Linked DNA regions of Homo sapiens. The protein of the gene in region 1 purifies or fractionates together with the protein of each later gene. This does not show direct contact. Each region holds a gene or a part of one and is shown in the gene's direction. Other genes may lie near its edges. The genes, in order: SLC49A4, GOSR1, ARHGAP8, UST, BPNT2, ARL8A and ABCA3.

Region 1 (3,500 bases):
AGTGTTTCAGGGATATTGAAAGAATAAATTGACACTGTAATTTCTAAATCACTTTATTTGAAGTGTTAGGAAAATATAAGAAAACTAAAAGCTAAAGAAGCAGAAGGGGAATATAGTATTTGTAGGAAATCACTGATACTAAAAATACATTGACCTGTCTTATTTTGACAAGAATCATACCTCATTTTTCTAGTTAAATCTCCAAGCCAATTATAGTGAGTCATTGATCACATCCTATTCTGAGCACCAAATTGGTCAAAGGGGGAACAATTATGTATCAAAAATGATGTCTCAAATGCTCCTTTGTCATTATTTTCCTTCTATACCCCTTAATTTTAACTAGATATAGATATAATTAAAGGGAAAATTTAGAATGAGGACTTTTCTGCTTTTAATTTGTTGAAATGGAAGTTCTAAAAAAATACTACCCTTACTCTGGGATCTGAAGTCAATTTCAGTTATCTCCTAGCCCTAAAATCAATTTTAAAATTACTTTCCTGACACCATTTTTTGGGATTCCCTAGGACAGTGCTACCTTGTAGACATACATGAGTGCTTTGGGTGATATTTTTGTAATTAAAGACCACTATTAAAGATACTTCTTCGTCCTAATAATACACTTCAATGGTATCAGCCTATTCGAAAGGACTGGATCTCCAAAAATAGCAGACTACAGTTGTCGGTTTATTCTTGTATGATCAGTTTCTGTGAAACTTTCTTGCAATTCAACTCTGATTTGTACTAAAAGCCTGTTTTATTCTCTTATACCTTGTCATCTCTGTATCTGACAAATAAGTTTATGCAGCATACCAAAATGTAAATCTGAAAACTGTTAGGTAAGCGTGGGATTAAAACAGTCTTTTGGATTTTCTTGAGGAATATTTTGTAAAGCTGTGGAAACTTTTTCAGCATACCTAAGAATTTTCTGCTTGAGGACAAATTTAAGTCACTGGGCAAAAGTGCATTCATTTTTCCCACCAAAAGATGGCATCAGCTCTCATAGGAAGTCATTTTATTCTAGAAAACACAAACATGATTAACCATATCATGTCAAATAAGTACAAAACAGAAGATAGTATTCAAAGTTTTAAGAAGGACAGTCACATAATTACAATAGAAATGTAAATCAACTTTAGAAAATTAAAAGTGAAGAGAATATAGTAAATGTTGTATTTGAGATGGGATCAGCTATTCTATAAGAGGAACAGTTCTGAAGGACAGAATAAATTGTGCAGCCAGAGGATTGTGCCCGTACAATCAACAGTTAATCCACAGGTGAGGAAAAGCAGCTGGCAAGTGGAAAATTTTTTTGGCATAGCTAATGATAAGCGTCTCTACCAGATGCCCTTTAGTTTCATGAAAACTCAAACATGAAAACTTAAAATGCTATAAAAGTCCCAAGTTTAGAAGAATAATATTCACTATTCCAGATGCCGTGTATGTTTTGTTCTCAAGAAGTTTACAATCTGGTAGGGAAGACAAAAATAAATGCAAAAACAAGAGTTTCCAATAGAGAAAGTGCTATGAAGAAATAAAATAGAAAGTGGAGGTGGGATGGGGAAAGACTTCTTCACTGAGCCCAGAGGGCCTTGTTGAACTGAGACCTGAATGACCTGAGGGGTAAACAGGAGTAAGACGTGAAGATCCGGGTGGTACCAGCATTCCAGGCAGACGGAACAAGTACGGAAGCTACATATTGCTGTGGTAAGCAACCATGGCATGTATGAGAAACAGAAACATGGCCATCCAACTGGAGAACAGTAGAAGAAGAGAGAGCAGGGCCAGGCAGCAGGTCACATAGGACCTCAGAGGCTCTGGTGTAGGCATCTGTGTTTGTTCTCTAAGTGAGTTTGAATTTTGAGAGAGATCTTTGCAAGTTCATGTCAACAAGTTAGCCTGATTTTCAAAACTAAGATAATACATGTTCATTATAGAATGTTTGGAAAGTATAGAAAAATATGAAGAAAATGACAGTGACACTTAAAAACTCAGAATCAACTGGGCATGGTGGCTCATGCCTGTAATACCAGCACTTGGAGAGGCTGAGGTGGGAGGATCCTTGAGCCCAGGAGTTCAAGACCAGTCTGGGCAACATAGAGAAACCCTGTACACACACAAAAAAATAATAATTAGCCCAGCTACTCAGCAGGTTGAGGTGGAAGGATTGCTTGAGCCTGGGAGGTGAGGCTGCAGTGAGCCGTGATCACATCACTACACTCCAGCCAGGCAATGGTGAGATCCTGTCTCTAAAAAAAAGTAAACACTCAGAATATATCCTATAAATTATAGATCCTGAACAAAGATGCCGTTTTTTGTGTTTTATAAGAGAAAAAAAATTATCACAAAGTAACATCATACAAGAAAATTTGTTTTAAAAAAACACTGAAAACTGTCTTTTAAAAGAATATATGGAAAATTCCTCAAGTAGTTGTTAGTGAAAGTGTGTCATTTGCTTAAATAGTATTTTTAAATCCCACTAGAATTAATAGAGCATTTTTGTTTTTAGGTTTGCAGATTTTATCAGGGGTATGCTGAAACTAATTCTTCTCCTCCTGTTTTCGGGAGCTACACTGTCATCCACGTGGTTCACCCTGACCTGTTTGAACAGCATCACACACCTACCTTTAACCACAGGTGAGCATAGGCTATTTTTGAACTTTTAATAAATATTTTCATTCACAGAAGTGTACATAACTCTGACAGTAGGACTTCTTCTTGCTTTCTGTAAGTAATTGTTAAATATACAAAAAAGTTTCTCTTGTCCAGTCATCAAACCATCATCTTATCTAAAGAGTCCAAAAAATAACTAAAAATATTTTAATTGGTATTTTTCACATGGAAAAGAAGTATAATCTTTAGCCTTAACACATAGAGCATGGAAATGCTTATATTTGTTTAAAATTTCTATCAGAGCATAATACAAAGATTTTTATCTTGGTTATAGTCATTATATCACTGTTAAATAATAATAATAATTAACAAGGCAAAAAACTATGGTATACTTCAGTAAAGTTATTTGAACCAGCCCCTATAGGTTTATTTTACATTTAGTGTTATTCCATCATTAATACAAAGCAAAACTTACTGGAAATACCTGTTGAAAGTATATTACAGCCAGCTTACTTAGCTTATCTAATGGACCTGAAACATTTTTAGTTGCTGTTGTTTTTCTTGTCATTATTAATATCATCAATTCAGAGTCTATTTTCTATTGCTGCTGTAAAAGTTATGCAAATTTAGCAACTTAAAACAACAGAAATTTATTATCTTACATTTCTGTAGAGTAGAAGTTCAATACAGGTCTCACTGGGCTAAAATCAAAATGTGAACAGACTCTAGGGAAGAATCTTTTTCCTTGCCTTTTCCAACTTCTAGAGGTCACCCACATTCCTTGTTTATGGCTCTGTCCTCTGCCTTCAGAGCCAGCAACCTTGGGTCAAGTCCTTTTCACGTTGCATTATCTGTGCCTTTCTTCCATCGTTACATCTGCTTCTGAACCC
Region 2 (3,500 bases), on another chromosome or scaffold:
CTCCAGCCTGGGTGACGGAGCAGGACCCTGTCCCCCAACCCCCAACCCCCCCCAAAAAAAGGATATTAACTCAAGAGATCTTTTAAACAGGACATCAAGGTAGTCACAGGGAAGAGATTGTGTTCGACCAAAAGTGACTTTCTCTTTTCTCTTTAATCTTTTCTTTTTTTTGAGACAGGGTCTCGCTCCATTATTCAGGCTAGAGTGCAGTGGCTCCATCACAGCTCGCTGTAGCCCCCCCCTCCTGGGCTCAATTGATCCTCTCACCTCAGCCTCCCGAGTAGCTGGGACTACAGGCACACATGTCTAGCTAATTTTTTATTTTGGTAGAGTTGGGATTTCACCACATTGCCCAGGATGGTCTTGAACTTTTGGGCTCAAGTGATCCTCCCACCTCGGTCTTCCAAATTCGGTGCTGGGATTACAGACGTGAGCCACCACACCCAGCTGTTTTAGCCACGTTTAATGAGTCTGTGACCTTTGTCAGCCATCATGGAAACCCAGCATAATGTTGCATGCATGCCTAGTTGGTTCTCAAGTAGAATTTTGGAACATAATCTCTTCATAAATTAAGGGCTGGTTGTGTATTCACATTTTATGATATTTTATATTTCTTTTCTATTTTTATAATTATAATTCCCTTTCAACAGTTTTTCCTGATTAAAGATATTTTAGTAGCTGGCTTCTTTTTAAACTCTTTTTAAACTTTTTAAAGTTTTTAAACTTTAAATTTTAAGAAGCTTTTGTAATATGTGATTTGTCTGTTTATGCCTTATTTTGTTTGTTATTTTGAAGCAAACATAGGAAGTGGCTTACTGCCTTGTATAAAAAGATATCAGAGAACAGTGGAGTCATTTGGAAAAAGCGCAGTGGTAAAGTGGCTTCGGAAGTGATTTTTTCCCCTTATTTTCTGGCACAGTGCTTTCTAAGATGATGTTGCTCACTGTAGTTTTCTTTCACTTTTAAAGGCATGATGGTTCCAGGCAGGATAATCTTAAATGGTGATTTGTCATCTTTTTTTCCCCTTGCAGCATTGCTATGGCAACAAAAGAAAATATGACTTCACAGAGAGGAATGTTGAAGTCAATTCACAGCAAAATGAACACTTTGGCCAGTATCCTTTTTGAATGTTCGCAGTCTGTGTTTTGAGGGTAGAGGGGAGAAGTGTCTGTGTGTGCTTTTATAGGGGGCAGGTTGCCATCATCAGTAGCAGTAGAGCCCATCAGTAATTGCATAATATGAATATACTGTGCATTCCTACTTTGTGAAAGTTTATGCTCTTTAGTACCATTCCTAAAAGACTGCACCTCAGAAGTTTCTTACTACTAGATGTAGAAGAAAAAAATTATAAATGTGAATTTAAAAATTATCCACCAATTTCTTCTACATTTTAGAAAGCTTTTAAATTCATGTTAGAACTCCACACTATACATTATTCTTACCTAAACATGATAAATTATATGCCTTTGTTGTTTTTCCCATTTAGAGATAAGTCAGTGGCAGATGCTTGGAAGGGGGAAGGAAGGAGACAGCCACCCGTGCAGATGAGCTATAGCTACTGATGGAGTTTGTAACTCTATGCACAGGCTGAATTCTAGGATACATTCTCCACTTGTTTGTTGTAACCTCTACTTTAAAATGTTTCAGTTTTCTGTTTTAAATTAGGATTATTAATACTTCCCAGAAACCCACTAGGGAACCAGAAAAGCCTGGCACTCTGAGTCATTTCATTCAGCGAACCTCTGAAAAGACAAGCCTTCTAGGCAAAAAGCTTTCCTCCCCAACTGCCAAAGGGGGAGGAACCTAGAATTTTCAAAAGCTGAGTATCTTGTAGTCCTAGATAATTTGAGTTCACTTTTAGTTTGATATGTCTTTGCCTAAGGAAAAGACTCTCCTGATGTGTGCTGTTATTCTCCAGTCCACTGTGAATTTTGTTCTTGCCTTGTCACCCTAAGTATAAAACCACATGTCTAAAATCACATTTTAGATAGGGCTATAAAATTTACAGAGTGCTGTTATATACATTATCTCATTTTACTAAACTATGAACTCAATTGCCAGCCAGAAAAGCTGATCAGTGAATTTAAGAGTTTGTATTTAGTGAAACTTTTGAAACTTTGAAATAGAAGTGTGAGTCAGATAGCTGATGATTTAAAACACTAAAGCCTTTCTCAATTGTTCATTAGAATTTACCACCACTCTTCTTTGTGACCTCTTCTCTACTGCTCTGTAAGCATCTCTCCCATAAGTTCTCTCTCTCTTTTTTTTTTTTTTTTTTTTTTTTTTTTTAAGACAGAGTCTCACCCTGTTACCATCCAGGCTGGAGTACAGTGGCACGATCTCAGCTCACTGCAACCTCCAGCCTCTCAGGTTCATGCAGTCCTCCCGCCTCAGCCTTCTGAGTAGCTGGGACTACAGACACGTGCCACCATGCCCGGCTAATTTTTGTATGTTTTGTAGAGATGGGGTTTCACCATGTTGCCCAGGCGAGTCTCAAACTCCTAGGCTCAAGCAGTCCTTCAGCCTTGGCCTCCCAAAGTGCTGGGATTATAGGTGTGAGCCACCCTGCCCAGCCCAACACTAAGTTCCCTTAAGGCAAAGTAGTATACTGGAACCTAGCATAGCGCCTCATACAAATAAGTCACATGGGAATTTTACAATTACTCCAAAAGAATGTGTTCAAAAAAAAAAAAAATCAAAAAAAATGGGTGTGGGTCAGGGCTAAAGTTTAGTCCACTTTCCTCCTGTATCTGCCTTCTGCTGCGAAGTAACTTTGAAAATATTAATAATTCACCAGTGTCTGATTATATAGACCTTAGAGTTGGTTCCCATGAATTGCCTGAATCTAAGGCGGGAAAAGATCAGGTATTTCTTCAAACTCTCAGGCAGAACTCCCCAGTCTCCTGAGAGAAGAGGAAAAGAGAAGGAAAATGAGGAAAGGGAGGGAAATGGGTGGTGGTGGCGATGGGAGCTGGCTATGCCTGTGCCTCCCTGCCAGAGTTCCTCCATTCCTGGCCACGCTGGCTCCCACCCTGACCTGAAGCCTGGCAGTAAGCCCTCAGTGCTTGGGAACTGTCATCGTCCTTTTCTTCTCCCTCTCTCTCTATTACTATTCTTATTTGTGTTACACACAAGACTGGGAGATGTGTATTGGTTAGGGGCCTTGAGCCGCAGCGCGTTCCCGGTTTGGGCAACTGCATCTGCTAAAGATTCCCTTGGTGTGAGTTTCTTCCCCATGCCTTTCATCACTGTTTCTAGACACCACTGATCTCTATTTTTGTGATTCCTACGACTTTTCGCCAGAGAGGCTTCTTCCAAATATGACCTTAATAAAGATTTCCCAAAGATCGTTTTCCTGCTGTAAACAGCCTGATCCAGAGGATCAACCTGAGGAAGCGGCGGGACTCGCTCATCCTAGGGGGTGTTATTGGGATCTGTACCATCCTGTTGCTGCTGTATGCGTTCCATTGATGGGACATCTTCAGGGACTCTTGACAGCC
Region 3 (3,500 bases), on another chromosome or scaffold:
GGTGGATGGTGGGGTGACCCTGGAGTGTGGGTGGAACCAGGCCACGCTGGGCCTTGGATCCCGGGGTCTGTCCCAAGCCCTCTGCTTGTTCTTTTATTCAACAGACCTCCCAAGTCCCTGCTCGTGTCCCCAGCCCCGGGTTGGCTGAGTGCAGAGACTCAGACGTGAGTCAGACATGGCCCTGCTGTCAGGGCACACACAGTGATGGGTCAAGAAGAGCATACAGGTACATGGTGCAGACTGATGAGGGCTGTGATGGACCTGGGGGCTGCCAGAGCCCACAGGAAGCCCCTCTCCCAATCTGGGGTAGGCAGGGCACCTGGAGCATCAGGACGCTTTTGGCTGTAATTAACAGAAAACACAACTCTGAACCGGCCCAAAGTCAAGGGGGGTGCATTAGCCCATGTAGCTGCAAAGGTCTGGGGATAGTATGGAGATCAGGTGTGGCTTGATCAGGGGTTAGCTATTCCCTTCATTCTCTGTGGGCTGCTGGGTCTGCAGAGGGGCGGCAAGTTGGCTGCAGCCCTCCGGGTCTCATCTGCATACCCAGCTGCGCAGAGACTCTCACAGTGGTTCTGTCTTGAGAAACAGGATCTTCTGTCTCAGAAGTATCCTGGAGCCTCAGGGGCCTGAAGGGAGATGGTCAGGGAGATTGTCAGGGAGATTGCCTCGTGCTGATTAGCTCTGGCTTGGGTTTCTGAATTAACCTTTGAAAAGGGAGATATGATTACTCTTAGCCTAACTGGGCGGGCCCTGGGAGGCGGGACAGCCTCACCTCTTGCAGCTGGAGGGTGTGCAGGTGAGAGTTGCGCACCCGAATGATCACCTGGGTGCCCTTGCGCAGGGCAGCAGAGATGCTTGGTGTTCCCTAAAGGCTGTGTGAGGAGCCCTGAGTCTTGACCCACAGGAGAGGGGGTGACCCCAGCAGCCCTTTAGAGACCCCCTTGCCCTTTCAGGGTGCTGAAGGTTTCCTGCGGTTTGTGGGCAGGCCTCTGACAAGGTCCTGATGCAGGTCACAGTCAGCTTGTTTGGACTTCGCTGCCGCCACCTTCGGGGGTCTCATGTATCTGCTACCTGGACAAATGGCCTTGCGCATGCCGTCTTGCCAGCGTTGGGGACCCAGTGGTGGTTGTGATGAAGACTGGGTAGTGAGGGTCTGTATTAACGAATTCATGCATAGCTGAGACAAAAGAGTGGAAGTTACTTTTTATGGGATGCCACTGGGGGACCCTGGAATCCCAGCTCAGTAGTGACCCCCATTCAGCCATGAGCAAGATCTCCTGCCCCCATCATTCCTGGACTTTCCCAGGAGTCGCTGGCCAGTGTCTGCCTCAGGTATGACTGTGTGCAAGCTTCTTTGTCTCTGGGTCTTGGAAGCTTAGGCCTGGGTGGCATCAAACTCATTGCCTCCTTCTCCCAAGAGCCCTTTATCAGAACACCCAGTTCCAAAACGAGAGCCTGCATTGTGCAAATACCACAGCGAGCTCTTCCTCTGTATGCCCTGCACATCGGACTTGCCACTCAAATTAAGTTTGGTGCTAATTTGCCCGAGGTAAGTAGGTGTTAATTTGTAGCTACAGCATTAAGATAATTGCTGTGAGGGTCTATTTGTGTAATGTGCAAATATATTTTTACAGCAACAAACCATTTTGCTATGAATTATAAATAGAACAGTTGGGTGATTTGAATTTTCCTTTGCATAACATCCACTCTGCCAGCATGCCTGTTCGGGTCCATGTCTAATGAGGGGCTGCAGCTGGCCCAGCCCCACAGATGCTGATGGTGCCTCTGTGTCCTTGTCCCCGACCCTGGGGGGGATCCGAGAGAAAGGGCTTGTCAGGGAGGGTCGGGAGGGAGTTGAGGCATGTGCGGACTCACATGCAGGGCGAGGCAGGCTTTGGGGGATGGAGCTTCTGCTCTGAAGCCCACTGGCCAGGAGAAAGGGCCCACTTGTAATGTCTGGTTTATTTTCACTTCATTTTGATGATTACGAAGGACCTGCATGTACCAGGCCCTGTACTAGGCACCACGGATACTGTTTGAGCAAATCCAGGCATGGGCTTGGTCCTCGTGAAACTTTGATCTGCTAAGGGAGGCCCATGTTAACATTAGCAAAAGGATCACGGAAATAAGTGCCATCAGCCCTCCGTATTGGTGGCCTCTGTATTCGTGGGCTCTGCATCCGTGGCCTCTGTAACCGTGGACTCTGTATCCATGGGCTCCATATTATGGGTTCCTCATCTGTGGATTCAACCAACCGCGGATTTAGTGTATTGGGAAAAGAAAATAAATGGTTGTGTGTACTGAATTTATACAGACTTTTCTCCTTATTCCCTAAACAACACAATGTAAGAACTATTTACAGGCATTTACATTGTGTTAAGTGTTACAGGTAATCTAGAGATGATTTAAAGCATACAGAAGGATATGCATAAGTTATATGCAAATACTACACCATATTTCAGCAGGGGCTTGAGCATCTGTGGATTTTGGTATCTGCCAGGAGTCCTGGAATGAATTCCCCAAGGGACGTCTGTAAACTTGCACCTGGTTGAGAGCTATGAGTAATGGATACAGGGAGCTAAGAGTATATGGAGAGGGGCCTGCCATGCTCCTGTTTGGAAAGAGAGAATATGTTAGTCAATTTTTACGCTGCTGATAAAGACACACCCGAGACTGGGTAATTTATAAAGGAAAGAGGTTTAATTGACTTACAGTTCCATGTGGCTGGGGAGGCTTCACAATCATGGTGGAAGTGAAGGAAGAGCAAAGGAACATCTTACATGGTGGCCAGCAAAGACAGAGTGAGAACCAAGCAAAAGGGGTTTCCCCTTATAAAACCATCAGATCTCATGAGACTTATTCACTACCATGAGAACAGTGTGGGGGAACCCCCCCCAACTCATAATTCAGTTACCTCCCACCAGGTCCCTCCCATAATGTGAGAATTATGGGAGCTACAATTCAAGATGAGATTTGGGTGGGAACACAGCCAAACCATATCAGAGAATTGTCTTAACAGAGATCAGAAGGACAGACAGGAGCTGACCTGCAGGTGGGGGCTGTGGTATAATGAATCTTAGCTGAGCACAGTGGTTTGTGCCTGTGATCCCAGTGAGCCGGAAGGCTGAGATGGGAGGATCACTTGAGGCCAGGAGTTTGAGACCAGTTTGGGCAATATAGTGAGACCCAGTCTCTACAAAATACATGAAAAAGCCAGGTACAGTGGTGTGCACCTGTAGTCTCAGCTACTCGGGAGGCTGAGGTGGGAGGATCGCTTGAGCCCAGGAGTTCAAGGCTGTAGTGAGCTATGATCATACCACTGTACTCCAACCTGGGCAACAGCATGAGACCCCATCTCTAAAACAAAAAAAAATCTTTGTTAGGTCTTTGTCCCTGGTTCCTGGCAGAGCTCCTAAAACCCTTGGAAGAGCATCTTTTGTTACTCATTATGAACTCTCTCTCTCTCTTTTTTTTTTTTTTTTTTGAGATGGAGTCTC
Region 4 (3,500 bases), on another chromosome or scaffold:
CCTGGAGACAGAGCGAGACTTTGTCTCAATAAATAAATAATAAATAAGTAAATAAAAAAATAAATAAATAAATTTCCATCCATGTCCATTTTCTTTGGACATAATCTCCAGCTTTGAAACATTCAGAACCTCACAAACAGAGGGAATCTCATTCTTAATTTACCAATTGCGTATTTCCATTTTATCTTGGGGGAAAGTAGAACTGTTTTAAGACAGTAACATAGCCAACCATACTTGTTCTAAAGCCACTATGTTTTGTGTCTTTTATAATACAGAGATCAAATTGCCCACTCCTTTGCAAACTTCCATTAAAAAATCACTCAGTATCAAGTTTAAATAGCCATTACCAGCACGAATAGTTAAAGAATCATTACCAATCAGCAAAAAATATTTTAAGGTTATACCTTGTAGGTTCCATATTAGGGTCTCCAAAGAAAAGAATGATCTTTGGTGGCATTTAAGGATATTGCATTTTATGTATAAGATTGTACATACAGTAGGGGCAGGTTCTCTTTGATTACCTTACTTGATTGAAGAGCTAATGTGATTAGGCTGGTGATGCCTTTTTAACTGCCTGAAAGAAAGGAATTATAAATAAATACATTATTGCAATTTTATTATAATTATTAAATTTGGTGTTCTTTTGAATCTAACTCTTATGGCCTGCTTATCTATGGGATTACACTTAAATATAATATCATCATACTCAGTTCCCAGATGCCTCATAAAACACAGTTGCTAGATTTTAGTTCCCACTGCAGGAGAGACAACAAACTACCTGCAGAGAGCAGGACAAAAGTAACTCAAGGATTAGACATTGGGATGTTCAGGAATTGTTAGAAGAAAGAACACAAAGTACAGTATTTAAATGTGCCTTGGGATTTTATAGAGATCAACCTAGTTTGTTTCCTATGAGGAGCAAACATGAAAAAGTAAAATACACTTGTAACTATGAATGGAATAATTTAGAATAAAAATTAACAGCAATTTACTAACCATGTATAGATTGTTAGATCCAGAAAGGGTTAAAGACAAAGTCTTCCTTCTCTTCTAAAATATAGGCTAGCTCTCATCTGTTTGGAATGGTTGGCTTGTCTGGAAGCCAGAGAAGAGACTAGACAGTCTTTTAAGATTCTTTCCAGCCCTGTGATTCTGTGATATATTTGTACAACTTCTAGCATAATCTGTGTATTGTGTAGTTGAAACATTTCTGATTCCTGTGGTCAAAGTGACCTAGAATATATTTCATAACTTCATTATTCCAGATTTCTATTAAATTGTAAGGCAGTTTTAAAAACGCATGGCAAAGGTAAAGATAAGGTAGAAAAAACAAATATATAATTTTAATGTGAAAACAAACATAATAACAGTAACTATTACCTCTCCGCAGCCATCTGGCTCTGGCATGCAGAGAGAGAAGCCAGGAAATAAAAGGACAAGAAACCCAGTTTGAAGTTCAACAACATTTAGAGAAACACTTTTTTTGTCCTTGTATTGCTTTTATTAAAGTTTCAACGTGCATAAACAGAAAAAATATTATTTTAATATATATTCAAGAAATAATTTGTGGTATGAATAGCTCCTTTTTTGGTAATTTATTAGAGGAATGAAGGGGGAAATGGTTTAGAAGACTAGTGGAAATTGTAGTCAGTTGTTCTCACCTATAAATGGTAGAATTCTGAAAATTTGTTCCCATAGAATCATTGTCCTCTAGAGTTAATAACAATTCCACTTCAGGTGCAGTATGACTTAAACAGGCTCTTGTGGGCTGGCCTGGGACTTTATCCACCGTGTAGAGAATTTCTTTTATGAGAAAATGTGCTCCAAGTTTCAAACTACTGACTTACAAATGAACTTTGGAATATTATCCATTTCTAAGACCAGATTATCTATTCCATTTCATTCATACAAAAAGGCACCTCTCTGGGCCACAGTCAAATTCACACATGCATTGCTCTCTGGAGGGTAGTTGTGATCATACACACACACACACACACACACACACACACACACACACAGAGCTAAATTTTTTAAATCTATTAAATGGAACAAGACACTGAAGGGATTATTAAAAAGGAAAGGGAGTGTGAAGACACCAAATGTTAGAATGCCTATAAAAATCCCACTACATCTGTCCTTATAAAAATAGAAATACCTTTGAAGTTCATATTTTGGGAAATATCACCTCAACAGCAGAGCATGGGCAATGGCTGCTGGGCAAGTGTTGGACTTTCGCACAGCTCATCATGCAAACCTGTGATGACATCATTGCATTTATGCCCTAAAACTAGATTTCAGGTCTTAAGCTGGCTTAAATTATCTCTTGAAAAATGGAGATTATATACAGCTTTGAAAAATAGGGAATTTTTTTCCCCAGAAGACATGGCATGTGATTGCCAAAAAAACACATAACCATCTTTGGTTAAGAGGTGACACCATCTTTCTGAGCATTGCTCTAAATACAAGAAAGGTCAGAGTGCTGCAGGTGTATTACAACTATGAGAATCCATAATTACTTTCATTCTCTTTAAAGAAAAGCAAAAGTTACCAGCATATTGAGAAGGCACATAATTTTACTATTTCTATTTCTGTTGAAACTGAGGATTACGTGTTGGATACAGCACCTACAACCTGCATTGTTTTTCTTCATTGTTTCATTGAACTTTTTGGACCTAAAAATATACTACTGAGTGGGTATGATTCCCTGTTTTATGGGTGAGACACCTAAGACAATCAGATTGTAACTTTCCAAATACATTGTAATGACTATCAGTGGCTCTTGGCCTTGAACCTAGGCCTTCCTTAATCCAAAAGCCATTCTCATCATGCAGTGTTTATCTCCTCTAGCTGGATAGCAGAATCTCAGCAGAGCCTTTTAAAACCTAGAGTTGCAGTGGCCCTTCTCCTGGAGATTCTGGGGTAGAGCCCAGAAAACTTTTTCTTTAATGAAGTGTCACAAGAGATTTTATGATGCAGCCAGGGTTAAGAAGCTCTGTCGAAATCATCATACCAGCATTGCCCTAGGTATGTTCCTGAGAATCCTAGTCCTCTAAGACATTGAAAGAAAAAAAATATTATGGTTCAATAAATTTGGTAAATGTTGCGTGCCTTGTCCCGAATGAATCAATTCACGATGATTATTCGCATTTTGAAGACTTCGAAAATTAAAAACAAAACTGCAAACAAACTGTTTGACTGGATTTCACCTAGCGTTTTTGCAGTCTTCATTGTTCAGGGGAGTCTTAATGAGTGTTTGTGACTCATTTGCATTCTGCAGAACTCCAGTTCATTGTCTGTGAAATACTAGGCAAGTCCACATCCTCCCACCAGTTGTAACAGTAAAGGCTACTATATCACTATAAACGTAACATCTGTTCTGACCCTCCAACAGCTATTCAAATTATTAAAACCTTGAAGAGTTATATAAAGGGTGGAGGAGAGAGAGATCCTATGCCCATGTGCCCTAGATAGCTTTAGCTTCCTTATCAAAACACTATTTC
Region 5 (3,500 bases), on another chromosome or scaffold:
TATTTTTTTTCCCCTCTTCCCAAAATGTTGTGTTGCTTCTTGACTTTTTGTTCTACCATGTAATTTTCAGAAATGCCTTGTCCAGTTTCCAAGGAGAAGGTTAAAAAAAACCAACAACAACAAAAAACACTGGGGATTTTGATTGGAGTTGCATTTATCTGCAAGCTCTTTTAGATTTTCTCAGTGCTCAATAATCAACTTCATATTATGGATTGGTTTTTCTTTCTAAACTTTGTACCTCCCCACTTGCTCCTCTCCCCCTCCCTTTAGCTTACTGCAATGACTAGGACCCTCTGCACATTGTTAATAGCTGTTATGATGGAGGGCAACTGGCTCTGTGTTGCAGCCTGCGAGGTCCTTCACCATCTGGCTTCCATTACTCTCTGACCTCAGCTCCTTAGCCTTTCTCCTTGGCTCACTCTGCTGTAGCCTTGCTGGCCTCCTTGCTGCCCTCTGAACACACCAGGCACATTCCCACCTTAGGATCTTTTCATTTGTTATTTATTGGGCTAGAATGCACTTCTAGATGCCTGCCAGGCTTATTTTCTTTAGATCTCTTCAGTCAAATACCACCTTTTCAGTGAGGGGCTTCTCTAGCTACATTACTTTTTTTTCAAAACAACTTCATTGCAGCATAGTTTTTATATCTTACAATTTGTCTATTTCAAGTATACAATTCAGTAATTTTTAGAACTGCCAAATTGTACAACTATCATCATTAATCAGTTTTAGAACATTTTCACCACCCTAATAATACCCCTGACCCCATTAACTGTTTATTCTTGTTTTTATCCCTTATCCCAGGCAACCACTAATCGGTCTTTCTCTATAGATTTGCCTTTCCGGACATTTTACATTAATGGAATCAAACAGTATATGATCTCTTGTATGTTGATGCTTTCACAAAGCAAGGGGGTTCATCCATGATTTAGCATGATCAATACTTTATTCGTATATATGGCTGAGTAACTTTCCATTGTATGGATATACCAAATATATTTATCCATTCATCAGGGTAATGGATAAACTACTAATTGATGGAATTAGTAGTTTTCTGATTTTAGCCATTATGAATAATTGCCTAGCCACCCTTTCTTAATACTATCTACCCCTTTTTCTTAAAGAATAACCCTTCCACTACTCTCTAACAGTCCTTTCTCTACTCTCCAACAACACTCTTTCTGTCCTTTTGGTCTTTATTTTTTCCTCCTTATCACTATCCAGCATACTACATGTTTTTTCATGTGTCTCGTTGTTTATCTATACTAGAATCTAAGTTCCACAGGGCAGAAATTTTTGTCTCACATTGATCACTGTGGTATCTTTAAGACCTGTAACTGTGTCTGTCATATAGTAGGCAATCAATAAGCATTTGCTGAATTAATAAAGACATAAGTGAATAAATTGAATGTTTACTTTGCTCTGTACTGAGAAATATTTAAAGATTTACCAGGCGCGGTGGCTCATGCCTGTAATCCCAGTACTTTGGGAGGCCGAGGCGGGCAGATCATGAAGTCAGGAGATCGAGACCATCCTGGCCAACACGGTGAAATCTCGTCTCTACTAAAAATACAAAAATTAGCTGGGTGTGGTGGTGGGTGCCTGTAGTGCCAGCTACTCGGAGGCTGAGGCAGGAGAATCACTCGAACCCGGAAAGTGGAAGTTGCAGTGAGCCGAGATTACACCACTGCACTCCAACCTGGTGACAGAGCGAGACTCCGTCTCAAAAAAAAAAAAAAAAGAGATATTTAATGATTTAAGCGGTTTGATGTTTCTAGAATATTAGTATTTTTAACCTCTCCTGTGATAATTTGGGGTGTTTCAGGGTACCTTCTGGAGATTGGTGATAGTTATATTTTTTAAAATCATGTCTGTGTCTCTGCAACTTTCTGAAGACTATAGGTGAGAGATGTTGTATTGACAATACTCATGTATTGTCAGTGCTGTAATCGCTTTGGCACTGTAGCGTGGGGTCTAGGCATGGCATCACATGTAGCATAAACATGACCTACTCTGGAAAGGGAGCTTGTCAGAAAGCACAGGACCCAACAGCCTGTCCTGCTGAGAGTGTAAGTCCCTAACTAAAATCAAAATTTTGGGGACATTTTTTCTTGTGTGTGTGTATGATGATGTGATAGAAGTCTCATGGTGAGGCAGTATTCATATAAGATTGATGATCTGTTATTAACTTAATTCTTAAAGAACACTCAATTCTTAGATTTAGTCAATTGGTATATGCCAGTTTACAAAAGTAAATGCAGTTCTAAAACATTTTTTTATTATTATTTATTTTTTGTTTTTTTTGAGATGGAGTCTTGCTCTGTCGCCAGGCTGGAGTGCAGTGGCGTGATCTTGGCTCACTGCAACCTCCACCTCCAGGGTTCAAGTGATTCTCCTGCCTCAGCCTCCCGAGTGGTTGGAACTACAGGCACGCACCACCATGCCTGGCTAATTTTTGTATTTTTAGTAGAGATGGGGTTTTACCATGTCGGCCAGGATGGCCTTGATCTCTTGACCTCGTGATCCAGCCGCCTCGGCCTCCCGAAGTGCTGGGATTACAGGCGTGAGCCACCACACTTGGCCAAAACATTATTTTTAAAACACTGTTTTACAAATTAGACTAATTTTAGGATGCATTAAGAAGCACACTGTTGAAAACAGTGTTTTTTACATAGGATGGGACAGGGGCGCACTTGACAATGTCCGGAGACATTTTTGTTTGTCACACCTGAGGGTGTTGTTGCTGGCATCTGGTGCGTTCTAGTGGCATTCAGCCAGGGATGCTGTTAAACATCCTACAATGCACAGGACAGCCCCACAACAAGGAATTATACAGTCCAAATTGTCAGTCGTGCCAAATTGAGCAATCTCAATTTAAAGGAATCTGTAATGTGTTTGTAAATGAATAGAATACTTACATAAAGTATTATACAAACACATGTATATATATGTTATATGTAGAAATAATATATAATATATATTATACAGAGAGAATATATATGTGTAAGGGGGGTTTGTGTGTGTGTGTGTGTGTGTGTGTGTGTGTGTATATGTATGTATGTAAGGGTGTGGGGTAAGGAGAGAATATATTCCTTAAGGAGAGAATATATTCCTCTATTCTCGTAACAACCCTTCCTCTACTTATATTTCTCTCCTTACCCCACATCCTTACATATCTGTATGGTAAGTTAAATTTATTTTATCTTTTAATTTTGTTCCTTAGTTAAAAAAAAAAAGGTAGAAAATTTGACTGTACCTCCCTATTCTATGATACGTCTTTCTTCTAACTCTAGTTGCTTGTGTTGTGTTCCAGAATATTGTCTATTTTCACACTTTAGAGCTATTATCTTTCATAAAGCATTGTTAAGGTTTAAGTAGCTTGTTTCTTCAATGCTCAGTTTCTCTATATTTCTCTATATCCGAATTATCTGTCTTGATTAGTCAACAAACCAGGCTTGAATATTAGATTGGGAAGCATTTAAAGACCTGATGTCATGGAT
Region 6 (3,500 bases), on another chromosome or scaffold:
GTCCCCCTGCTGAGGAGCTGGGAAAAGACAGTAGAAGACTTCTAAGGTAGACGGAGAGCGGGTGGAGACGGGGGAGAACTGGAGAGGAAGCCGGGGAGGCAGAGGAGAGTAGGGCAGGGTAGGAGGGGGCATTTGAGACCCAAGACACGTTTTGGTGGCCTGCCCACTACTGAGGCTATCTCACCCTCTTCTTGCTCAGCTCTGGGACATTGGGGGACAGCCGCGTTTCCGCAGCATGTGGGAGCGCTACTGCCGAGGAGTGAGCGCCATCGTGTAAGTACACGGGAGGCATCGCCAGACTCCAGCCTTACCCGGCCCCCCTAGCCCTGCTACCTTCGAGGACCTCAGAGGCGCAGGGTTTTATTAGACATAATCCTTGGTTCATGACACAGTGTCGGTCCAGGGCCTGCGTTTATTTTGCATGCCACTTGTTTCTTATTGGATAAATGCCCTGGGCACTCACTACCCAATCTAAGAAACAGACTATAGACTATTAACCAGCCAGATGCACCTGTGCATCCTCTTCATTGACTTGTCTCCCTCCCCTCAACCCAAAGTCACCACTGTCTTGAATTTTGTGTGGTTTAAATGATTCTTTTTTTTTTTTTTGAGACGGAGTTTCGCTCTTGTTGCCCAGGCTGGCGTGCAATGGTGCGATCTCGGCTCACCACAACCTCCTGCCTCCCAGGTTCAAGCGATTCTCCCACTTCAGCATCCCAAGTAGCTGGGATTACAGGCATGCGCTACCACGCCTGGCCACTTTTGTATTTTTAGTAGAGACAGGGTTTCTCCATGTTGGTTAGGCTGGTCTTGAACTCCCGACCTCAGGTGATCTGCCTGCCTCGGCCTCCCAAATTACATGCATGAGCCACCGCGCGCAGCCCTCTCTTGCTTTTTAAAAATAATGTTTTTTTTGGCTGAGCATGGTGCCACACACCTGTAATCCCAGCTACTTGGGAGGCTGAGGCAAGAGGATTGCTTGAGCCCAGGAGTTTAGGGCCAGCCTAGGCAACATAGCAAGATCCTGTCTTTAAAAAAATAAAATAAAATAAATTTTAAACATTGAAAAATGGCAGGGCATGGGCTGGGCGCGGTGGCTCACGCCTGTAATCCCAGCACTTTGGGAGGCCGAGGTGGGCGGATCACGAGGTCAGAAGATCGAGACCATCCTGGCTAACACAGTGAAACCCTGTCTCTACCAAAAATACAAAAAAAATTAGCTGGGCGTGGTGGCAGGCGCCTGTAGTCCCAGCTACTCGCGAGGCTGAGGCAGGAGAATGGCGTGAACCCAGGAGGCGGAGCTTGCAGTGAGCCGAGATCGCATCACTGCACTCCAGCCTGGGCGACAAAGCGAGACTCTGTCTCAAAAAAAAGGAAAAGAAAAGAAAAGAAAAATGGCAGGGCACAGGGGGAGGCCAAGGCAGACGGATTACTTGAGGTCAGAAGTTCAAAACCAACCTGGGTAACATGGTGCAACCCTATCTCTACAAAAGTACAAAAATTAGCTGAGCCTGGTAGCACGCACCTGTAGTCCCAGCTACTCAGACGACTGAGGTGGGAGGATCTCTTGAGTCCAGGAAGCCGAGGCTGCAGTGAGCTGTAATTGCACCACTGCACTCCACCCTGGGTGACAGTGAGACCCTGCCTCAGAAAATAATAGGCTGGATGCGGTGGCTCATGCCTGTAATCCCAGCACTTTGGGAGCCCGAGACGAGTGGATCACAAGGTCAGGAGATTGAGCCCATCCTGGCTAACATGGTGAAACCCCATCTCTGCTAAAAATACAAAAAATTAGCCGGGCGTGGCGGCATGTGCCTGTAGTCCCAGTTACTTGGGAGGTTGAGGCAGGAGAATCGCTTGAACCTGGCAGGCGGAGGTGGCAGTGAGCTGAGATTGCACCACTGCACTCCAGCCTGGCAACAGAGCGAGACTCCATCTCAAAAATGATATTAATAATAATAATAAAATTTATTCTATATATATATGCCCAAACAATAGATTGTTTAGAATACACAATAGGTTGCTTTTTAACCTGATAACAAAAAGTATCTTGCTAAAAGAAATCTTCTAAGGTTTCCTTTGCTTTTTTCACTCTAACCTTATTTAGTCTTTCCATGAAAACATAAGTGGGTCACTTTGAGAGGGACTTACAGCTAATCTCAAAGGGCCCACGCTTTTCCACATGAGTAACGGCTTCCCCAGAGTAGCACTTGGAGGCTAATGGCAGGCCTAAGGAGTCCCTGCAGCTGTTCACTCCCATAGACTCAGAAAACATCCGCGGAGCACCTGCCTTGAGCCAGGCCAGGTAGCCCATGGATCCCGAGGTGACCAAGCTGCAACAGATGCTTTCACCTCCAAGCAGCAGCTCCTTCTCTTCCTTGCACCACCTCAGCCTGTGGTGTCAACATGCTTGTCCCCACCCTGCCTCTTTCCCCAGGTACATGGTGGATGCTGCTGACCAGGAGAAGATTGAGGCCTCTAAGAACGAGCTCCACAACCTACTGGACAAACCTCAGCTGCAGGGCATCCCGGTCAGCAGACCTGAGGGAGCGGGATGGGGAGGGAGCTCGGCTGGGAAGTCACTGGGAGCAGGTAAAAGCCAGGCATGGTAGGGGCGCAGAGAGGAAACGGGACCCAGGAGGCCAGCTCACCACCCAGACAACCTGGGCACGGCTGCCCTAGACCTCATCCTCACCCTCCCTTCTCCGTAGGTCTTAGTCCTGGGTAACAAGCGAGACCTTCCGGGAGCATTGGATGAGAAGGAGCTGATTGAGAAAATGTGAGTTGGGTGACTCTATATTACTTTCTGCTCTCCCAATTCCCCAACCACCAGACCAACAGCCTAGGCTTGCTGCTGTTCTTAGTATTAGCCACACGGTGGCAGCAGAGCCGACCTTTTCAGGCACCTCACCCTCCCCTTTGTAGCCTCTTAGGTAAGAAAAAGGCCCCGCTGTCCCCTAGCCCCAGGCCCCCTGGACGTTCGTAGCCTCAGCGGACTCTACTCTGGTTTCCCCCAGGAATCTGTCTGCCATCCAGGACCGAGAGATCTGCTGCTACTCCATCTCTTGCAAAGAAAAGGACAACATTGGTGCGTAGGATGGGGGAAAGGGAGGAGAGGGGAGAGGCATTTCTGAGTGTTTTAGTGGCTCTCAGGTTCTCGCTCCACAACTTTCCCTGAAGTCCAAAGCCCTGTGGCTCTTGGGTAGAAAAGGCAGCCAGGTGGCCCAGATTCTGGGCACTATCCCAGCTTGTCGCCAAGCGGTTGTGTGATCTCGGGCAAATCGATCCCCGCTCTGGGCTTCACCTCCTCGTTTCTAAGATTCCAGGGCTGGACCCGGTGATTCTCAGGTCCCTGCTGGCTCTGACATGCTGTGGCTCTGTCTCTTTCCCAGCACCTGAATTCCGCTACTACTCATTCAGGGCCATGTGGCGCTTGCCAGCTCTGGACTTCTTGTTTGTTTTTGAGAAAGTGTCTCGCTCTGTCACCCAGGCTGGAGTTC
Region 7 (3,174 bases), on another chromosome or scaffold:
TGTGGGCCGCTGCTGGGACACGGGCCTCCACTGGGACATGGGAGCCAATGCTAACTCTCAGCCTTATTCCCCCACCTGGCACCCTCCTGCCTCTAGTGGTGGTAACAAGCGGAAGCTGAGCACCGGCATCGCCCTGATCGGAGAGCCTGCTGTCATCTTCCTGGACGAGCCGTCCACTGGCATGGACCCCGTGGCCCGGCGCCTGCTTTGGGACACCGTGGCACGAGCCCGAGAGTCTGGCAAGGCCATCATCATCACCTCCCACAGGTAGAGCCTGGGTCTGTGGGTTACTGGAAGTTTCAGCACCGGGTGGGCCATGGAGGAGCCAGGTGGCCAGGAGACCCATCAGCATCTGGTGCAGAGTCTGCCCGTGAGCCACACTGAGCATGGGTATCAGGAACAGCCTGATCGGAGAGCCAATGCCTTCCTGTCTGCACAAGCCTTTGGCACCCCAAGCCCTATCTGAGGTCCCGCCCTCTCCACAGCATGGAGGAGTGTGAGGCCCTGTGCACCCGGCTGGCCATCATGGTGCAGGGGCAGTTCAAGTGCCTGGGCAGCCCCCAGCACCTCAAGAGCAAGTTCGGCAGCGGCTACTCCCTGCGGGCCAAGGTGCAGAGTGAAGGGCAACAGGAGGCGCTGGAGGAGTTCAAGGCCTTCGTGGACCTGACCTTTCCAGGTGTGTGCCGGCCCCGGCAGCCCCCACTGGGTGGGCCCTGGGCCCCTACCTAGGCCTCTCCCATCTGCTGTGCGGAGCGTCTGTGCCTCGCCCCGCCAAGTCCCATCTCCCCAATCCCTGGGACGAGGACTCCAGTGCTGAGCACCCAGGCACCCTCCCCGATCCTCCAGCCCGGCGCTCACAGCAACACCGTCTCTCCTTTGTGCAGGCAGCGTCCTGGAAGATGAGCACCAAGGCATGGTCCATTACCACCTGCCGGGCCGTGACCTCAGCTGGGCGAAGGTGAGGCAGTCCCTGGGGCCCCACTGGGCACTCATGGGGCAGGGGGAGGTCCCTCCAGGGGTCTCTCCCTCTGTGGTGACTGCAGGCTCTTTCCACAGAGGAGTCACTTTCCATTTCTCCCCTAACACTCAGCCTGATACGTGCTGGTTTGGGGGTTTTATATCCAAAATTATCAGTGGTAAAAGGAATTCAGTGTAAAACAGGAAAGGGGTCAGGGATGGTGGCTCACACCATAATCCCAGCACTTTGGGAGGCCGAGGAGGGAGGATTGCTTAAGCCTGGGAGTTCTAGACCAGCCTGGGCAACATAGACCCCGTCTCTACAAAAAATTTAAAAATTAGCCAGGTATCATGCATACCTGTAGTCCCAGCCACTCGGGAGGCTAAGGTGGGAGGATCGCTTGAGCCTGGGAGTTCGAGACTGCAGTGAGCTATGATTGTGCCACTGCACTCCAGCCTGGGCTACAGAGCAAGACTCTCTCTAAAAAAATATGGGGGAAAAAAAGAACTGGCTCAGAAAGGGAACATCACTGGCTCAAGGTTGTAATCTGAGCTGGGAACAGCACAGGGAGGAGGCTGGGCCCCATCCCCGCTGGCTCCTGCTTAGCCAGCGTCCTCTACCTGGGAGCACGGTGCCGTCGCAGGGCTGACCTCTCTGGGGCTCTGGGGTGGCGCTGGGCAGGGGTAGGATTGTGGGGGCCTCATCAGCCCCTATTGCCAGAGGACTCCCAGGTCCCGCAGAGGAGCCTGGGCCCTGTTCTCTCCTACCAGTGACTTTTCTGCTCCCCAAAGGTTTTCGGTATTCTGGAGAAAGCCAAGGAAAAGTACGGCGTGGACGACTACTCCGTGAGCCAGATCTCGCTGGAACAGGTCTTCCTGAGCTTCGCCCACCTGCAGCCGCCCACCGCAGAGGAGGGGCGATGAGGGGTGGCGGCTGTCTCGCCATCAGGCAGGGACAGGACGGGCAAGCAGGGCCCATCTTACATCCTCTCTCTCCAAGTTTATCTCATCCTTTATTTTTAATCACTTTTTTCTATGATGGATATGAAAAATTCAAGGCAGTATGCACAGAATGGACGAGTGCAGCCCAGCCCTCATGCCCAGGATCAGCATGCGCATCTCCATGTCTGCATACTCTGGAGTTCACTTTCCCAGAGCTGGGGCAGGCCGGGCAGTCTGCGGGCAAGCTCCGGGGTCTCTGGGTGGAGAGCTGACCCAGGAAGGGCTGCAGCTGAGCTGGGGGTTGAATTTCTCCAGGCACTCCCTGGAGAGAGGACCCAGTGACTTGTCCAAGTTTACACACGACACTAATCTCCCCTGGGGAGGAAGCGGGAAGCCAGCCAGGTTGAACTGTAGCGAGGCCCCCAGGCCGCCAGGAATGGACCATGCAGATCACTGTCAGTGGAGGGAAGCTGCTGACTGTGATTAGGTGCTGGGGTCTTAGCGTCCAGCGCAGCCCGGGGGCATCCTGGAGGCTCTGCTCCTTAGGGCATGGTAGTCACCGCGAAGCCGGGCACCGTCCCACAGCATCTCCTAGAAGCAGCCGGCACAGGAGGGAAGGTGGCCAGGCTCGAAGCAGTCTCTGTTTCCAGCACTGCACCCTCAGGAAGTCGCCCGCCCCAGGACACGCAGGGACCACCCTAAGGGCTGGGTGGCTGTCTCAAGGACACATTGAATACGTTGTGACCATCCAGAAAATAAATGCTGAGGGGACACAGTCACAGTCTGTGGGTCACACGCGCGAGCGGTCACAGGGCTCAATCACTCGCCCACAATCTAGACATGAGGCTCTCCTTTCACATTTCAATCACACAAACGTGGGACGTTGCTTTTCCCAGAAGGGAGCACACGCAGAGAATACACTGAGGTGAAGGAACAGGCCCATAACACAAAGGAAAAAGCCGGCTAGATCAACGCCCGGTGACAGGCTCTTAGTCTAAAGACAAGAGCAGGTGGGGCTGTGTGGGAAGCACAGGTCTGGTGGGAGAGAAGCTGCTGGCATCAGGGTCACCCGTGGGCATTTGCCATTTCCCAGAAATAACTCCTCATCAGCTCCCTTTTTAGTTATTTATGGAGTCTTGCTTTGTTGCCCAGGCTGGAGTGCAGTGGCGCAATCTTGGCTCACTGCAACTTCTGCCTCCCGGGTTCAAGCCATTCTCCTGCCTCTGCCTCCCGAGTAGCTGGGACAACAGGCACGCGCCACCACACCCAGCTAAT

The links.
Region 2: the proteins of SLC49A4 (region 1) and GOSR1 purify together in Homo sapiens (affinity purification with mass spectrometry; one large-scale study listed by BioGRID and IntAct). This does not show direct contact.
Region 3: the proteins of SLC49A4 (region 1) and ARHGAP8 purify together in Homo sapiens (affinity purification with mass spectrometry; one large-scale study listed by BioGRID and IntAct). This does not show direct contact.
Region 4: the proteins of SLC49A4 (region 1) and UST purify together in Homo sapiens (affinity purification with mass spectrometry; one large-scale study listed by BioGRID and IntAct). This does not show direct contact.
Region 5: the proteins of SLC49A4 (region 1) and BPNT2 purify together in Homo sapiens (affinity purification with mass spectrometry; one large-scale study listed by BioGRID and IntAct). This does not show direct contact.
Region 6: the proteins of SLC49A4 (region 1) and ARL8A purify together in Homo sapiens (affinity purification with mass spectrometry; one large-scale study listed by BioGRID and IntAct). This does not show direct contact.
Region 7: the proteins of SLC49A4 (region 1) and ABCA3 purify together in Homo sapiens (affinity purification with mass spectrometry; one large-scale study listed by BioGRID and IntAct). This does not show direct contact.

What each region holds. Positions count from the first base shown.
Region 1 is NC_000003.12:122,857,569-122,861,068, forward strand, and holds part of SLC49A4 (solute carrier family 49 member 4), read left to right. Parts: intron 1-2,506; coding exon 2,507-2,634; intron 2,635-3,500.
Region 2 is NC_000017.11:30,518,908-30,522,407, forward strand, and holds part of GOSR1 (Golgi SNAP receptor complex member 1), read left to right. Parts: intron 1-1,031; coding exon 1,032-1,114; intron 1,115-3,346; coding exon 3,347-3,471; 3' UTR 3,472-3,500. UniProt on the Homo sapiens protein: Involved in transport from the ER to the Golgi apparatus as well as in intra-Golgi transport. It belongs to a super-family of proteins called t-SNAREs or soluble NSF (N-ethylmaleimide-sensitive factor) attachment protein receptor.
Region 3 is NC_000022.11:44,759,075-44,762,574, forward strand, and holds part of ARHGAP8 (rho GTPase-activating protein 8), read left to right. Parts: intron 1-3,500.
Region 4 is NC_000006.12:148,942,530-148,946,029, forward strand, and holds part of UST (uronyl 2-sulfotransferase), read left to right. Parts: intron 1-3,500. UniProt on the Homo sapiens protein: Sulfotransferase that catalyzes the transfer of sulfate to the position 2 of uronyl residues in glycosaminoglycan chains. Has mainly activity toward iduronyl residues in dermatan sulfate, and weaker activity toward glucuronyl residues of chondroitin sulfate.
Region 5 is NC_000008.11:56,980,368-56,983,867, reverse strand, and holds part of BPNT2 (Golgi-resident adenosine 3',5'-bisphosphate 3'-phosphatase), read left to right. Parts: intron 1-3,500. UniProt on the Homo sapiens protein: Exhibits 3'-nucleotidase activity toward adenosine 3',5'-bisphosphate (PAP), namely hydrolyzes adenosine 3',5'-bisphosphate into adenosine 5'-monophosphate (AMP) and a phosphate.
Region 6 is NC_000001.11:202,134,738-202,138,237, reverse strand, and holds part of ARL8A (ADP-ribosylation factor-like protein 8A), read left to right. Parts: intron 1-199; coding exon 200-273; intron 274-2,437; coding exon 2,438-2,531; intron 2,532-2,711; coding exon 2,712-2,779; intron 2,780-3,017; coding exon 3,018-3,088; intron 3,089-3,500. UniProt on the Homo sapiens protein: Plays a role in lysosome motility. In neurons, mediates the anterograde axonal long-range transport of presynaptic lysosome-related vesicles required for presynaptic biogenesis and synaptic function. May play a role in chromosome segregation.
Region 7 is NC_000016.10:2,275,381-2,278,554, reverse strand, and holds the end of ABCA3 (phospholipid-transporting ATPase ABCA3), read left to right. Parts: intron 1-96; coding exon 97-267; intron 268-485; coding exon 486-676; intron 677-884; coding exon 885-958; intron 959-1,749; coding exon 1,750-1,881; 3' UTR 1,882-2,674; downstream 2,675-3,174. UniProt on the Homo sapiens protein: Catalyzes the ATP-dependent transport of phospholipids such as phosphatidylcholine and phosphoglycerol from the cytoplasm into the lumen side of lamellar bodies, in turn participates in the lamellar bodies biogenesis and homeostasis of pulmonary surfactant.